Homo sapiens: one gene and its partners. The protein of the gene in region 1 purifies or fractionates together with the protein of each later gene. This does not show direct contact. Each region holds a gene or a part of one and is shown in the gene's direction. Other genes may lie near its edges. The genes, in order: KDM5A, ZNF131 and BRD8.

Region 1 (3,652 bases):
AATATTTGAACAGTTCATAGCTGTGAAGTTTAGTAATTATTTTTGTGATTCACTAAATACATCTCCTAGAAATAATGAAAGGGGGGGAAATGACAATTTATACAGTTATCCAAATTCTGTGTTCTTGAGTTTTCAGGATACTACATAGTCTGTTGCCCCTGTGTCAAAATCATCTGTGGATTCAGTTGACATCCCAAACTTTAGTTTGCTTTATGTTGCTGTGGGCCTTTCACACAAAAGTAGAACTCAGAGTTGATTGTTAGTAGATGAACATGATAAAAAAGATATTGGTAAAGAGAAGGACTATTTTTTGCTTGTTCTATTATCAGGCTAAATTGTTATATAACCTGTAGTCTAGGTTAGAATTTGTGTACCAGTATCTCAAGGAAGGTTATATACTCTTTTGAAATGGTAGAAGATCTGGGCTTAGGAAGGGACCTTTAGTCAAAATCACAAAAGGGAAAGTATTGTCTTATTTGTAAGAGAATTTTGGGAAATTGTAAGCCAGTGAGTATAGTGCAAACACTAGATTTAAAAAGACATGGGACACTTTTCTTTGTAGCAAATACTGATACATTAATAACATTCTTATCCAATGGATTAGCATGAATGGGGACTAGACTGGATTAAGAAAGAGGGTTGGAGGTGTAAGGGTGAAGGTAACTGTTGGTTCACAGGTACCATTATAAAAAGCATGGTATCTCAAACCTGGGCAGCACAGAGAACCACAGTTTATCTATCCAGTTCCCTTTACCAGTCCCAAACAGCCAAAACACTCACTCTGAGTGCACGTACTCTACAGCTAGCATTTTGTGTTTTTACTGCTTGCAGTACTTTAATTTTTACATTTTGCACAGATGCCATTATTTCCCCCTTTTTTTTTTTTTTGGTCTCTGATTAGTTTGCTACAATAGGAACATTTTGGTGAGTTTTTTTATTGCACAGACTTCAGAAGCTAAACAATCAATTACAGAACAAAAATCAGTTTAGGAAGGTATTGTTAAGTTGCTCTGAATTTACAGGAAGTGATATCACAGAGGGCCAGCAATGATCGGATTTAGAATATATGAGAATCACTTGGGAGCTGATTAAAAATGTAAGCTTCTGGCTTGTACTCCCCAGATATTCTGAGTTCATAGGGTGATGGGTCCCAGCTACATTTTAAACAAACACAATAGATGATTCTGATGCCAGTGGTCTACACACTTTGAAAAGCAGTGCTGCCGACAGTTGTATCAAGGTGCAGAACGTTTTGTGTAGTGTAGGGTAATGAGTAGAGCCATGAGACCATGACTGGAAAGTGCCTCCAGTATCCTGGGCAGTGAATTAGGTGTTTTGCCATACATTATTTCATTGGATCCTCTCGGTAATCTTGTAATTAATGTCATCTCCATTTTCAGATGAGGAAATTGAGTCACTCAGGTTAAATGACTTGCCTGAAATGATACACACTGGAACTCAGAGCTTCTGAGTTGAGTAATCTTGATGTTAACACAATATTGTCTCTTAAGATCTAGAACTTTAGCATAGGAACAAAACAAGTAGAATATCATTTTGACAAATTATTTTTCCCACCCCTTATTACAAGCCTAAAACTACTGACGTGACTACTGTGGTTTTGACAGTTTTTTATAGGACATGGAAACTAATTTTGAAAACTACTCAGTTGCTATGAATGAAACTCATTTACCTAGCCAAAACCTCCTTCATCTGTTCTTTCTCTTAAGTTGTATAGAGGTACTTCTTGGATCCCTTTCTATTCCTTACTTTGATATCTGGTAAAGCTCATGGTTTTAAGTGGCTTCTTAACGTTACCAATGAAATGACCAACCTTGGTATTGAGGTGAGGAAGAGTAGCTCTTTTCATCTTAAATGTTCTTGTCTGCCATGACATTAGCTGTAAAAACTACCACAATCAGCCTTCAAATATAAAAGCCAAAAGTCACTTTATTGTTAACTCTTAAGTCCAAGGCTTAAAGTCACCAAACTACAATCCCTTCCTAGCCTCCTGTAATCACAGTATTGTCAGAAGGGTCAAAGTTTGACACCTGCCACTGACCTATCAGTTTTTCAGATTTTAATTTTAAACCCCAGAGTGATCTATTGACCTGTGTCTTTGACTGTTATAATTGGTTAATTTGTAAGATTTGACATCTGATATTTGCTAACTTTTTATAGGGAGTTGTATTTGTAACGGAAGAAGAGAAGAATAAAAAATATTAGTTTTAAAAGTGGCCTATGTGACTGCTTTTCTAAAAAGGTATTTAATGCTCTTAGTACTTTGGCTTATCTCTTTGAAATAAAGCTAATACACAGGATTGCCTTCACATTGTTGTACTCTTCCTTTCTTGATTGATAATTGCATTGTCTTAGAGCCTAGAAATTGTTAATATTAGCTAAAACTACTTGGCTGCTCTATTAGAAGTTCCCTTTTTGTCAAATTTTTCTCAAACATGTTTCTGCCTCACAAGGAGCCCCAGGTATTCATGAGGTAATGGAGTACCTAAGAGGCCTAATTTTGTGGACACACTATGGTGAAATATAATTTTGGGGTATTAACTTCTCAGCTTCTTTCTTTAAAAAATAACCCCATAAGAAGTCATTGCCTATCTAGACATCCCAGTTGTTTGCTATTGTTTAAGCCAAGAAAGCTCTTTGGTTTGCTTTTATTCTAGGCTTAATGTTTATGTAACCTAAACATTCCCCAATCTTGTTTCCTACAGGTAGACTGGGTACAATGTGATGGTGGCTGTGATGAGTGGTTTCATCAAGTTTGTGTGGGTGTATCTCCAGAAATGGCTGAAAATGAAGATTACATCTGTATAAACTGTGCAAAGAAGCAGGGGCCAGTTAGCCCAGGTCCAGCACCACCTCCTTCCTTCATAATGAGCTACAAACTACCAATGGAGGATCTTAAAGAGACCAGTTAGCAGATGCTTGGTTAGTTTGGGACATGGGGGGACATGGACCACATTGAGACCTTAGTCATCAAGTAGAGTGGTTTATATCCACTTGGAATGTTGCTTCCAAAGATGAATGGCCTTCAGAGAAAGTCCCCTTAGTGCTGGCTTCCTCTTTGCATGGACTCTGTGGGTTACATTCTCTATCAACATATCTATGCAGAGGGTGTCTTCTTTGGTACAACAGCCAATATTTCATGTCTCCTTTGAGTGTGGTTTACTGCATTAAGGCCAGATGCTTAATTGAGCTCTAGGGTGGCTGGTTAGTATTAATACATTGGTGTGCTAACAGGGCATATAGGATGTGGCTTTTGTCCAGCTGATAGTAGTTAGAGGCTTACAACTTAGGAGCAGCACCAACTGAAGGTGCTAATTGCTTGGATCTCCTTCATTGGGATAGTTGGAGAGGGATTGGAGTACCACTTTCCTTCCACTGTTACCTGGTACTTAATGCCCTAAAGATACAACTAGGAGTAACAGGGCCAAAGTTATTTCTGTTAGACGTCAAGGAATGGTATCACAGTCTATTGACCTCAGCGATTTGTGCTTGTTTGTGCTAGAAGAACATCCCAAATAGGAGAACCTCTCACAAGCTGGGGCAGGTCACCTTATCTTTGTAAGATGAGGATATCATCTAGATCAGAAATCTGACTAGATTGGATTCTGAGGAGAAGAACCTACTACAAGGCAAG
Region 2 (3,652 bases), on another chromosome or scaffold:
TCTGTGGCCCTTTTGCTGCTCATGATAGTGAGTGGTATGTCACTTTGGAGAAGATTCAAGACTGGGATCCCAAGCCTGGCGCAGTGGCTGATACTTGTAATCCCAGCACTTTGGGAGGCCAAGGTGGGTGGATTACTTGGACCTCAGGAGTTTGAGACCAGCCTGGGCACCATGGTGAAACGCCAACTCTATGAAAAATACAAAAATTAGCTGGCACTGTGGCGTGCAACTGTAGTCCCAGGTACTCAGGAGACTGAGGTGGTACGATCGCTTGAGCATGGGAGACTCAGAGGTTGCAGTGAGCCGAGATTGCACCACTGCACTCCAGCCTGGGTGAGAATGAGACCCTGTCTCAAAAAAAAAAAAAACTGGAATTCCAATAGTACCTAAAACAATCATTGCTTTTCAGTATAAACACAGTAACATGTTGAATTGTTTCTTGAACCAGATAGGCATGTAATATGTTCTGAAGAGTTCCCTTTGAAAAGAGGAAGACAGTAGTATTATATGTTGGCTGTTTATAATAATGCAGTGTTTAAGCTTCTACAGAGATGGTTTCTGTTGACTTTTTCCCCCATGCATGAGCCTTATTTTACTGTTTCTTTGTATGTCTCATCATTTTTTTTGGTTAAAAATTAGATTTTTGGCCTGGGCACGGTGGCTCACACCTGTAATCCCAGCACTTTGGAAGGCCGAGGCGGGTGGATCACTAGGTCAGGAGTTCAAGACCAGCCTGGCCAAGACGGTGAAACCCCATCTCTACTAAAAATACAAAAAAAATTAGCCAGGCGTTGTGGCGGGCGCCTGTAATCCCAGCTACTCGGGAGGCTGAGGCAGAGAATTGCTTGAACCCGGGAGGCGGTGGTTGCAGTGAGCTGAGATCATGCCACTGCACTCCAGCCTGGGCAACAGAGCAAGACTCCATCGCCCAGACTGGAGAGTACACTGGTGAGATCTCGGCTCACTGCAACCACCGCCTCCCCCGGGTTCAAGCAATTCTCTGCCTCAGCCTCCCGAGTAGCTGTGATTACAGGCTTCCGCCACCACACCCGGCTAATTTTTTTGTATTTTTAATAGAGAGGGTGTTTCACCGTCTTGGCCAGGCTGGTCTTGACCTCCTGACCTCGTGATCCACCTGCCTCGACCTCCCAAAGTGCTGGGATTATAGGCGTGAGCCATGGCACCCGGCCAAAAATTGGATATTTTTAAATAAGTTTTATTTAGATCCCACCCCCTACCTCCCCACCCCCATTCTGTCTCTCAGACATGATTTGTTTGGGTTTGGTTTGGTTTTTTGAGACAGGGTCTTGCTTTGTCACCCAGGCTGGAGTGCAGTGGCACAATCTCAGCTCACTGCAGCTTCAACTTCCCGGCCTCAAGAGATCCTCCCACCTTAGCCTCCCAAGTAGCTGGGACCACAGATGCTTGCCACCATGCCTGGCTAATTTTTGTATTTCTTTGTAGAGACAGGATTTCACCATGTTGCCCAGGCTACTAGTCTCGAACTCCTGGGCTCAAGAGACGTGGCCACCTCAGCCTCTCAAAGTGCCGGGATTGCAGGCATAAGCCACCATACTTGGCCAGACATGGTTTCTTTTTTTAATCTTTCAAGCTTTTTTTTTTTTTTTTGAAGACAGAGTCTCACTGTTACCAGGATGGAGTGCAGTGGCGTGATCTCGGCTCACTGCAACCTCTGCTTCCCGGGTTCAAGCGATTCCTTTGCCTCAATCTCCCGAGTAGCTGGGACTACAGGCACACGCCACCACGCCCAGCTAATTTTTGTATTTTTAGTAGAGATGGGGTTTTCACCATGTTGGCCAGGATGGTCTCATCTCTTTACCTTGTGATCTGCCCGCCTCTGCCTCCCAAAGTGCTGGGATTACAAGCACGAGTCACTGCGCCCGGCCTCAAGCTTTTATTTAAGTGCAGTGATCCAGGATGGATTTTAGATCTTGTTGAAAGCAGCCACATCCATGGACTGCACATAGTCCTCAAAAGCAGTGATCTGCTTCTCCACTGTTGCAAGTTTATCATCTTCAACTACACGCTGTATTTGAAGTTTCTTAATTTCCTATCCCACTGGAACTAGTTTAGATGAGCCAGACATCGTTTCTTATTGTTGTTACTGGTTTAGTGACTTTCCTGGACTTCTGTAATCCCTTTCCTGTAATTCTGTACAGTCTACATTTTGTGTGTATGGCCACTGAAGTCTGCATAGGTAGTTTACTGAACAAACTGATCATTGGACAGAAATTTTCTTAAAAGTCTTAAACCAGTAAGTCTCCACATTTTTGTTGGGGAGCTCTTTATAGGGTACACCATCAGTGTCCCATCAAGCAGTTTACAACTGCTTTAGCCTTTACTTCCTGTGTTAACAGAACCTCAAGGTCAGATAGAGATGAGAGTTGCTAAGGTCTTTCCTGGACATGTATACAGCTCTGTGCATGTGTATGGCCCTCTAGGTTCTCTGGAATATTGTCAGAGCTTTTTTTTTTTTTTTTTTTTTTTTTTTTTTTTTTTTTTCCTTGAGACGGAGTCTCGCTCTGTCCCCAAGACTGGAATGCAGTGGTGCGATCTTGGCTCACTGCAAGCTCCACCTCCCAGGTTCACGCTATTCTCCTGCCTCAGCCTCCCGAGTAGCTGGGACTACAGGCACTCGCCACCACGCCCAGCTAATATTTTGTATTTTTAGTAGGGACGAGATTTCACTGTGTTAGCCAGGATGGTCTCGATCTCCTGACCTCGTGATCCACTTGTCTCGGCCTCCCAAAGTGCTGGGATTACAGGCGTGAGCCACGGCGCCTGGCCTTTTTTTCTTTCTTTCTTTTTTTTTTTTTTTTTTTTTTTTTTTTTTGGAGACAGAGCTTTGTGTTGGCACGATCCTGGCTCACCGCAACCTCCGCCTGCCAGGTTCAAGTGATTCTCCTGCCTCAGCCTCCTGAGTAGCTGGGATTATAGGCGCTCACCACCACGCCCAACTAATTTTTTTTACTTTTGGTAGAGTCGGAGTTTCACCATGTTGGCCAAGCTGGTCTTGAACTCCTGACCTCAGGTGATCCACCTGCCTTGACCTCCCAAAGTACTGGGATGACAGGCATGAGCCATCACGTCCAGTCTGTCAGAGCTTTTTAAAGCCCCCTATGAACATCTCATTCTCCAGTTTTTCCTTTCAGTTTTTGTTCAGCTTCTTGATAGCCCAAACTTGTAATGCCACCACAGTAGTTGCAATGATAAACAGTTGCCATTGATTGTTTTTTGACAAATGTCTTGTGTTTAAGGCTATTTGAAAAGTGAGCTGTGGGTCAGATCAAATCTCCAAATATTTTATCCTGTCTTAGATTTATGTTTTAAGGAAGTGGTACACGTAAAGCTCTTAAAACAATATCTGCCACATAATAACATGATTATGCATATGTTCTTTTCATTTCTTGGAATGCCATCTGTCTGCTTGTTCATGGCAAAATTTTACTCATCTTTCTGGTCTCAGGTGAGAGCCAACAACCTGTTCTCTGAAGCTTTTCCTTACTGAGCCAAGCAGATTGACTTAGGCACTTCTATTATTCTGTATTTTTATGTTTTACATTTTCCATTACAACAATAATCATATTAGTGTTCCCACATTTTTCTAATAGTCTCCAACCTCTCTGAGGCA
Region 3 (3,652 bases), on another chromosome or scaffold:
GACTTTGCCGAGTACCCCAGTCACCTCGTTTCCTGGGATTCCTGACACCCTTCCTCCAGGCTCTGCACCCTTAGAAGCCCCCATGACCCCAGTAACAGATGATTCACCCCAGAAAAAGATGCTTGGACAGAAAGCAACTCCACCCCCCTCCCCTCTGCTGTCAGAGCTCTTGAAGAAGGGCAGCCTCCTGCCTACTAGCCCCAGACTGGTATGGAGACTTCTGTGGGTGTTTGAGAGCTGTGGTGATTTAGTACTTGGAAGGGAGTGCCTGGGACCTAAAATGTGACATGGGGAATAAAAGTTCAAAAGAGGAAAAGATCTCCTAATTAAATGTTAATTTTTTAAAAATACAGTAAGTTGATAGTACCCATGGGTCCTGAGGTATCTGAATCACAATTATTTTGGTTCTCTTCTCCAGAGAACTCTTGTCAAATAAGTTTTGAACATTATAGTTTAGAGTTTCCCTTGGGTCTTAAATTATTCTCTGTGGATATTAGCTATTAGTTTTCATGAAGTTTGATCAACTGCTGGAGCTTTGTTGGGAAATGGTAGTGAAGGAAAGCTTGAGTGTAGCCTTCACCTCTATTCTTCCCTGGTAGGTCAATGAGAGTGAAATGGCTGTGGCTTCTGGCCACCTGAACAGTACAGGTGTCCTCCTGGAGGTAGGCGGGGTCCTTCCCATGATACATGGTGGGGAGATACAGCAAACACCCAATACTGTTGCAGCCTCCCCTGCTGCATCAGGTAAGTTACCACTTTTCCTTTATCAACCTCAAAGGTGTTGAACTTGACATTGACTGACCTCAGTTTCACTGTTACTAAGCAGTTGTCAGTGCTAGATTTAAAGCCCAACTTTTTCTAACTTTTTTTTGGAGCTACTTTACCTGGTAAACAATGTAGTCTCCATATTATAAAGCCATCTATCTTCAAGATAGTGATAGCCCTGATTGACCACAGCATGGATATTGAGAGTAATATTGAACTGCTTTCTTAGGGCTTGCAAAATCAAGGTGCTAGAGATACCTAAGATTATAGAATAGTGGAATAAGATTTGGAACCAGAGAATTGGGCTTGAATCTCAGGCCTGCCACACATTGGTTTTGTGACCTTGGATAGGTAACTTAGCTTTTGAGCCTCAGTTTCCTTTTTTATTGTAACATATATACTTCACAAGGATGTGATGAGAATTTAATGAGGTAGAAAGTATAAAGCAGGGAAATAAAAAAAGCTCCATAGAATACCATACAAACCTTATTGGTATTTGAATGGTGTTGAACTTGGGTGGTTTACAATATGCTGAACTTCAGCAGAAGCGACAGATTTATTCATACCAGTTTTTCGTTTCTTGGTGATTAATTTTCCTCTGAGGAAAAATTACCACCCTTTGTTGTTGTTGTTGTTGTTTTTTTTGAGACAGAGCCTTGCTCTGTCGCCCAAGCTGGAGTGTGGTGGCACAATCTTGGCTCACTGCAATCTCCACCTCCTGCGTTCAAGCAGTTCTCCTGCCTCAGCCTCCTGAATAGCTGGGATTACAGCACCCACCACCACGCCTAGCTAATTTTTTTTTTTTTTTTTTTTTTTTTTTTGTATTTTTAGTAGAGGCAGGGTTTCGCTATGTTGCCCAGGCTGGTCTCAAACTCTTGACCTCAAGTGACCCACCTGCCTCGGCCTCCCAAAGTGCTAGCATTACAGGCGTGAGCCACTGCACCTAGCCTTACCACCCATTTTTTATATATGTTGTGTGTTCTAGTGCTTTGGTTCATTCCTAACTTGGAGGAAGATCTTAAGTAAGGTTAGAGTAAGGATATAGATGATGAACTTATTCAATGCAGGAGTTGCTCTCATCCTTTGAGACCATAAGAATTTTCTTAGTTGAGTCTTCAAGTAGCTATTGCTTCTTATTTATGTGCTTTCTTCTTACTTCATTTTGTGTACCTCTTTATATGTTAGGTGCTCCCACTCTTTCCCGGCTTTTAGAAGCTGGTCCTACACAGTTCACCACACCTCTTGCTTCCTTCACTACTGTTGCCAGTGAGCCTCCAGTTAAACTTGTGCCACCCCCTGTAGAGTCTGTGTCCCAAGCTACCATTGTCATGATGCCTGCGCTGCCAGCACCATCCTCTGCTCCGGCTGTCTCCACTACTGAAAGTGTAGCTCCAGGTGCGTCCCTGAGCAGCCACTAGATCTAAAATTTCATTTTGAGCTTTAGTTAGAGAAAAATGACCAAGAGCATCAGCTCCGATTCAGATGCTTCTTCTCTGTTCTACATAGACATGTGCCATCTTTATCCTTAGAAATAAATATCCTTAGAAATAGATGTGAGAAGAGGTGGGTGGGCATTTATGTATTGCAGGAAGAGGCTAAGTATACAGATATGAGCAGGCTTGAAAATATGTTCTCACCTTTCTAGATAAAACTGGGGAGAAGAAAACATAGGCACATGTTGATGACTCTTTCTGACCTTAAGTGTTTGGATATTTGACATCTGTCTGTAGCGCTTATGTGATCTCAAGGTGGTCGCTTTGTACCCAATAAGCTTCTGAGATGCTTTTCTCTTTCTGTTACTCAGTGAGTCAACCCGACAACTGTGTTCCCATGGAGGCTGTGGGGGATCCACATACTGTGACTGTTTCCATGGACAGCAGTGAAATATCCATGATCATCAATTCTATCAAAGAAGAGTGTTTTCGATCAGGGGTAGCAGAGGCTCCTGTTGGATCAAAGGCTCCCAGCATAGATGGGAAGGAAGAATTAGATCTGGCTGAGAAGATGGATATTGCTGTGTCTTACACAGGTGAAGAGCTGGATTTTGAGACTGTTGGAGACATCATTGCCATCATTGAGGACAAGGTAACTATTCAGCGAAGCCCCAGAGAATCTCATGGGTCCTACATAGGCTTCTCTTTTCAGCCTCACTTTGGTGCTGCTGCTGCTTTTTTTTTTTTTTTTTTGGAGACAGAGTCTTGCTCTTTCATCCAGGCTGAAGTGCAGTGGCACGATCTTGGCTTACTGTTACCTCTGCCTCCCAGCCTCAAGTAATTCTTGTGCCTCAGCCTCCTGAGTAGCTGGGACTACAGGCACATGCCACCACGCCTCACTAATTTTTTGTATTTTTAGTAGAGATGAGTTTTACCATGTTGGCCAGGCTGGTCTCAAACTCCTGGCCTCAAGTGATCCACCCACCTCGGCCTCCCAAAGTGCTGAGATTACAGGCATGAGCCACCATACTCGGCTGCTTTGCTTCTTACAGTAAGAATTACTTAAACAACTCTCCTACTTCTGCCCATCTCCATCTTTGTAGCCCTTTGGTGCTAACATACTAGTCATCTCCTCAGGTCTACCCATGTTACTGGTTTGCACAGGACAGGTGCCTCTTCATTGTTTGCCTCCACTACATGGAAAAAATGGAGCGAAAAGCTGCAGATTCAAGCCATCACATTTGGTGCTAACAAAAATTGAAGGACTTGGGCTTCTTTCTGTGACCTCAATAGTCTTGTGTTTTGTGGGACAGGTAGATGATCATCCTGAAGTGCTGGATGTGGCAGCAGTGGAAGCAGCACTGTCATTTTGTGAAGAAAATGATGATCCTCAGTCCCTGCCTGGCCCCTGGGAGCATCCTATCCAGCAGGAGCGGGACAAGCCAGTACCTCTC

What was found.
Region 2: the proteins of KDM5A (region 1) and ZNF131 purify together in Homo sapiens (affinity purification with western blotting; one study listed by BioGRID). This does not show direct contact.
Region 3: the proteins of KDM5A (region 1) and BRD8 purify together in Homo sapiens (affinity purification with mass spectrometry, with the first as the bait; one large-scale study listed by BioGRID). This does not show direct contact.

The regions. Positions count from the first base shown.
Region 1 is NC_000012.12:284,734-288,385, reverse strand, and holds part of KDM5A (lysine-specific demethylase 5A), read left to right. Parts: intron 1-2,723; coding exon 2,724-2,930; 3' UTR 2,931-3,652. UniProt on the Homo sapiens protein: Histone demethylase that specifically demethylates 'Lys-4' of histone H3, thereby playing a central role in histone code. Does not demethylate histone H3 'Lys-9', H3 'Lys-27', H3 'Lys-36', H3 'Lys-79' or H4 'Lys-20'.
Region 2 is NC_000005.10:43,141,414-43,145,065, forward strand, and holds part of ZNF131 (zinc finger protein 131), read left to right. Parts: intron 1-3,652. UniProt on the Homo sapiens protein: Plays a role during development and organogenesis as well as in the function of the adult central nervous system. May be involved in transcriptional regulation as a repressor of ESR1/ER-alpha signaling.
Region 3 is NC_000005.10:138,165,026-138,168,677, reverse strand, and holds part of BRD8 (bromodomain-containing protein 8), read left to right. Parts: coding exon of another isoform or gene 1-208; intron 209-599; coding exon 600-744; intron 745-1,950; coding exon 1,951-2,160; intron 2,161-2,569; coding exon 2,570-2,850; intron 2,851-3,511; coding exon 3,512-3,652. UniProt on the Homo sapiens protein: May act as a coactivator during transcriptional activation by hormone-activated nuclear receptors (NR). Isoform 2 stimulates transcriptional activation by AR/DHTR, ESR1/NR3A1, RXRA/NR2B1 and THRB/ERBA2.